Linked DNA regions of Homo sapiens: region 1 is linked to region 2. Evidence: fine-mapped expression QTL. A gene starts in region 2. The other region holds a variant in brackets. All regions are shown on one strand. Distances are from middle to middle.

What was found. PIP is the estimated chance that this variant, and not a neighbour inherited with it, causes the effect.
Region 1: its variant is the best candidate, but not a certain one, in a credible set for the expression of LETM1 in cerebellar hemisphere (GTEx, PIP 0.82).

Annotation. Positions count from the first base shown.
Region 1 is chr4:1,821,119-1,824,009 of GRCh38, reverse strand. LETM1 (leucine zipper and EF-hand containing transmembrane protein 1) reads left to right here. Exons shown (of 14, transcript NM_012318.3): 8 at 235-366; 9 at 879-1,022; 10 at 1,698-1,829. Among named protein-coding and RNA genes, the nearest start is that of FGFR3, 29 kb to the right of the region's middle. The variant C/T (reference allele first, on the strand shown) is at 1,665.
Region 2 is chr4:1,854,836-1,857,726 of GRCh38, reverse strand. LETM1 (leucine zipper and EF-hand containing transmembrane protein 1) reads left to right here and starts at 1,571. Exons shown (of 14, transcript NM_012318.3): 1 at 1,571-1,858. The coding sequence starts at 1,777. RefSeq lists enhancers at 1-485, 1,155-1,224, 1,862-2,363 and silencers at 755-974, 1,375-1,934, 1,945-2,134.

The sequences.
Region 1 (2,891 bases), 34 kb after region 2:
CCTGTTCTGAGGCCCTTGGGGTCCTCGCTGTGGGGGTTGCTGACCCCCAAGCCTCTCTGGTGTTTTGTTTACTAACGCCGTCATCGGGTCACGCAGCACAGCAACAAACAGACCTTGTAGAACTTGAGACACTGTCTTCTCTGAGAGCTATTCTGGTGATGAGATGGGCGGACCTGCTGTGGGGCCAGCAGGGTTGGGGGGCTGCCCATCTGCTGAACCTGGCCTTGGTTGCAGTGGCTGGACCTGCACCTGCATCAGGAGATCCCCACATCGCTGCTCATCCTGTCCCGGGCCATGTACCTCCCGGACACCCTCTCTCCAGCCGACCAGCTCAAGTCCACACTGCAGACCCTCCCAGAGATTGTGGTACGTGCTGTCGGAGACCCCTTTTACCTCATCTCTTCATAGGTGGCTCCGCTCTTCTGGGGTGGGGGGAGGTGTGCAAGCGCACTCATTCCTCAACCATGGGCGAGGAGCCTGCCTCCCACCCCCTCGCGAGTGCCCCCACCCAGCCACCTGTCCCCTTCCTTCCATCCCTCCTCACCAGCCCCTTGCCTGCCATCCCCCGTGTGGCACAGTTGCCAGTGGTCCCGACCTGGCCACGTGTTGGCTGCTGTGGATCTGGGCCGCGGCCCTTGGAGCTGTGTCAGCAGCGCCTATGCTCCTTCCCACATGTCAGGAGTCATCGGGCGAGCGCAGAGGGCGGCCCAGGGGCCTCCCAGCAATTGCGGGCAGCACCTCGGCAGTGCCTTCTGTCCTGTGTGTGTGAAGCCCAGGTGGTGACGGGGCAGGGGACACAGGACACAGGACAGAGGTGAGGGGCAGCAGGGGCCTCTGGTGGCTTCTGGGCTCACCCACAGATGTACCCTCTTCTGAAGGCAAAGGAAGCACAGGTGAAAGTGGCCGAGGTGGAGGGCGAGCAGGTGGACAACAAGGCCAAGCTGGAGGCCACGCTGCAGGAGGAGGCGGCCATCCAGCAGGAGCACCGTGAGAAGGAGCTGCAGAAGCGCTCGGAGGTGGCGGTAAGCGGTGGTCCTGCTCCGTGCCGCGTGGGGCTGTCCTGAGCCAGCCTCCCTAGAAACCCCCGCACGCCCACAGTCTTGGCCTCCCGCATGCTTGCCCTGCAGCTCTGTCCTGCATGTTTATTTCCTCCTGGAGTGGTCAGGGAGGCAGGGTGCCCGGGTGTGAGGGCTGCAACTCTGACATGGGGACTCCCCGATGGCCACAGTGGTGCTCATGGGAGATATACCTTAGCCGTCTCAGAGGGGCAAGCTTAGCATATGGCAGTGCCCACCCTCTCCTCAGGGACTTGCTGTGAGGGGCGCTGGCAGAGGAGCTGCAGGCTCCCCCAGCCTCTGGGCTCCTCTTCAACGCGGGCCCTGTGGTCCTCTTGGGTCACATGCATGGTGCCCACCCACAGGCTCAGCCTCCTGCTCTGCAAGTGACAGGGCAGCTTGGGGGAGTCTTGGGGAGACCAGAGATGGATAAGGTGCTCTAGCCTGTTCTGGAGAGGGCCCCAGGTGACCTGGCAGCTGCATGGAGCCTCCCTAGGGACCTTCTGTGGCAGGTGTGCTGCCCAATGTCACCTGCAGGCCTGCTCCCAGTGTGGCCTCTGCCATATGTTCTGAGCTTCGGGGAGCAAGAAGACTGCTTCTGTGTGATGG[C/T]GGGCGCTGGGCTGGTGTCGCCTTGCCTTTCAGAAGGATTTTGAGCCCGAACGTGTGGTAGCTGCTCCCCAAAGGCCGGGGACCGAGCCACAGCCAGAAATGCCTGACACAGTCCTGCAGTCAGAGACCTTGAAGGACACTGCCCCGGTGCTGGAGGGCTTGAAGGTAATGAGGCAGGTTCTGGGGCCCTGGAGGCTGAGGAGGGCATGGCCTGGCTTTGTGGACAGTTGTGGGGCAGGGATGGGGACAGGTTAGCTGGGGCATCTATAGCCCTCAGTGAGAGGAGATGGTGCAAGGGGTTGAGGATGAGGCCACTGGGCCCCTAGGAGGCTTGGTGGTTAGGAAAAGAGTGAGTCCGGCCGGGCTCCGCACTGTGCCTGGGTGCACAGCAGCTGACGCTGCCGTGAACTTAGCACCCTGGCCCACAGTGTGGCAGGTAGAGATGCCAGTCGGCAGGTTTCAGGGCCCTTTGCCAGCTTGCCCAGACAGTGAAGGGGTGTGGAAGCCAATGTGGCCCCTCAAGGTAGAGCCTCCTCCACAGGCCCAACCTGCTGTCACCTCCTGTGGGGTGATCTGGGCTTGGAGCATCTTCAGACTCCCCATGCGAGCCTGTGAGGTGCAGCCTCCAGGCGCCTGTGCTGCCTACCTGGGGCGCCTCCTGGTACCTTCCATCTTGAACTCGCGGGCTGAAGTGCAGTGGCGCCATCTCGGCTCAGTGCAGTCTCAGCCTCCCAGGTTCAAGCAACTCTTCTGCCTCAGCCTCCCAATATCTGGGAGTACAGGCGTGCACCACCAGACCCAGCAAATTTTTGTATTTTTAGTAGACAGGGGGTTTCACCATGTTAGCCAGGCTGGTCTCAAACCCCTGACCTCAAGTGATCTTCCCGCCTCAGCCTCCCAAAGTGCTAGGATTACAGGTGTGAGCCACCACACCCAGCCATAAAAAAAAAATTTGGCCAGGCGCAGTGGCTCACGCCTGTAATCCCAGCATTTTGGGAGGCCGAGGTGGGCGGATCACGGGGTCAGGAGATCGAGACCATCCTGGCTAACATGGTGAAACCCCATTTCTACTAAAAATACAAAAAATTAGCCAGACATGGTGGCATGCACCTGTAGTCCCAGCTACTCAGGAGGCTGAAACAGGAGAATGGTGTGAACCTGGGAGGCAGAGCTTGCAGTGGGTGACAGAGTGAGACTCTGTCTCAAAAAAAAAAAAAAAAAATTTCA
Region 2 (2,891 bases):
GCCCATCCAGGCCCAGTACCTGGCAGTTCCTGATGGGGAAAACCACCCAGGCAAGCAGGCTACGTTTTCCTGACGGGTGAGGACCGACTGCATGGACAGCAGGGGCAGAGGGGACCCTGGGGAGGGAGCCTCCTAGGGAGATGTGCCATTCAACCAGCCTCTCAAGACTGGGGAGCTGGCTGGCATCAGGCGTTTCACACCCCATGCGCTCCAGGGAACAGAGATGCTGAGTGTGCACTACAAGACCCTCCCCAGGCGGTGCCCTGAGGTGCCGCGGAGAAGCAGGAGGAGGCAGGTTACATCCCTGAACAAGACAGAGGGCAGGGCAAGTGCTGTGCTGGGGATCTCCTAGCTGGAGATCTCCACCAGCTGGGCCCCCAGCGCCGCAGGTCCCCATTTTTCTCCCTGCCTGCTTTCTCTGCCCCAACTCAGGGATCCTCATCTTAGGGAAGGAAGGGGAAGGTGGAGCTCAGAGGTCACGGTCTGCTGGGAGGCTGCACGGTCTCTCTCCCCTGGACTGGTCAGGGCCGGCTATTAAACTGGGCTGGGGGGAGGCTCCTGGGAGACGGCGCATGAGCGGTCCGCGAGCCCAGCCCAGCTCTGGCGGGAATTCTGGAGACTTCGAGCCAGGTCCTTGGCGTCCTGGGCTTCGGCTGTTCCTTCTTGGACTGGGAAGTGGAGCGGACAGGGTATGGCCCAGGTTAGGAAGTCTGGCGCTCTTGCGGCGCGCGGGACCCCAGGGGCTGCTTAGGCCAGAGCGAAACGAGGGGTCCCCCCGCGCCAACGCAGGACCCATATCTACCCCTCCCGCTCAGACGGGAGGACGCGGTGTGCCGGGATGGGGGGCCGCTATGCTGGCTGCGCCGCCACCCGGCCTAGTGCCCTCGCCTCCAGGGGCCGGCATGGCCCTGTCCTTCGGGGCGGGACCCTGCGCTCCCGTCCCCCCAGTGGTGACGGGGACTCCCGACGCCGAGCAGCGCCGTATCTGGGGAGCGCCGCCCGGTACGCAGGGAAGAGGCACTCAGAGCTGCGCGCGCCAGAGTGCAGACCGCCGAGGGCAGAGCCACAGAGCAGGGGGGCCGGCGAGGGACCGCGGCCGAGGGCGTCGAGGGCGCCCCTCCATCCCCAGCGTCCCCTGACTTGCCCTTGGAGCCCCAAGCTCCCAGGAGCCGTTTTCTACTCGTGGGTGCAGGACTTAGTCCCAGAAAAGTTCCGGACACACGCGCTGCTGCCGCCGCCCGGAGACGAAAAGACACTCCCCGCGCAAGCGCGGCCGACTCCCTCAGCTCCTGCGGCCGCCACGCTGCGAGCCCCGGCGTCCACGGTACGACGGGAACCAGGATGCAGCGAGCCCCAGGAGCCAGCCGCCCCGGTGCACGCCGGGACCGGTAGTCCGCGCCTCAGGGTAGTCCGCCGCTCCGGTGCACGCCGGGATCGGTAGTCCGCACCCCAGCGTGCAGGCCGTCCCGGTGCACGCCGGAACCGGTAGTCCGCGGTGGCGCGGTCCGCCCCTCACCTGGCCAGCGGCGGGCGCTGAGGGGCCCAATGGGAGCCGCGGCCTGGCCGCCCCGCCCCGCGCCTCCGGACGTCTGTGCCGGGACAAGGCCGCCGCTGGTGCCGGGTCCTTGAGGAGAGCGCCTCCCGTCCGAGGCCAGCCGCCTCTGTCAGCCGTCCGCGCGGGCCGGGTCTGAAGCGCCGCCGGGACGGCGAAGAGCCGCGGCCGCCGCGGAGAAGGAGGCAGCGCAGGAGGCCGGAGCGGCCGCCGCGCCCGAGCACATGGCGTCCATCTTACTGAGGAGCTGCCGCGGCCGGGCGCCCGCCCGCCTCCCGCCGCCGCCTCGGTACACCGTCCCGCGGGGTAAGCGGCGGGCACCCCAGGGCGGGGCCGGCTCCCGGCTGGTGGGTCGGGAGCGCGGACGACCCGCGGGTTCGGGCTGGTTGTCACGGCGATGCGGGGAGCCCGGTGGTCCCGGCCTCCGGAGCCCCTGCGGGACCGTGGGGCCCCGGGTCTCGTCGCGGGCTGGGCCGCCAGCGCCGGGCGGAGCCGCTGGGCCTCTGCCGTGTGTTGTGACCTTAGGCGGCCGGGTCCCCCGGGTCACTGCCTCAGAGACAGTGGGAAAATTCTGAAGGGCTGGGCAGCCCTGGCGCGCCCTGCGCGAGTAAGCTTGGTGGAACGTGTCCACGCACGAGGACGGCCGTGCCCTTTGGTCACGTTTGGGGTCCCGGAGACGAGACTGGGTGGGCAGGGCAGACACCGGCGAGCAGGACCTGCTGGGCTGCAGGAGCCTTCCTGGTCCGTCACTGATGAGGTGATGCCAGCACCTACAAACCCCTGTGGTGTGATTAGGCCGCGACCGGCACCCGGGGAACACGGGGACTCCGGAGCCGCTGAGGGTCCTCAGGGTGCGTGGCTTTAGCCCCCCTAGCCTCAGGTGCTGTCTGGAGTGAATGCTGTCCCAGGGTGTGCCCACCTCCTCTCTCTCTCTAATTAACCAACTTATTTGAGTCTATGTCCTTATTTGTAAAATTGGAATAAACATAAAACTTGCTAAGAGGGACTCAAGTAAAATAATTAGTGCAGTGGTGCGATCATACTCACTGCACCTCAAACTCCTGGGCTCAAGCTATCCTTCTGCCTCAGCCTCCCAAGTTGTTAGTTGTGCCACACAACACCCAGCTAATTTTTTTTTTTGTAGTTTTTTTGTAGAGACAGGGTCTTGGTATGTTGCCCAGCCTGGTCTTGAACTCCAAGGCTCAACTGATCCTCCTGCTTTGGCCTCCCAAAGTGCTGGGATTACAGGAGCCACCATGCCCAGGCACCCAGCTTCAATATTCTTGTCTCTGTTCCCCACCCCCAAAGAGATAGATTGAAGTTGCCCTGAATGTATCCT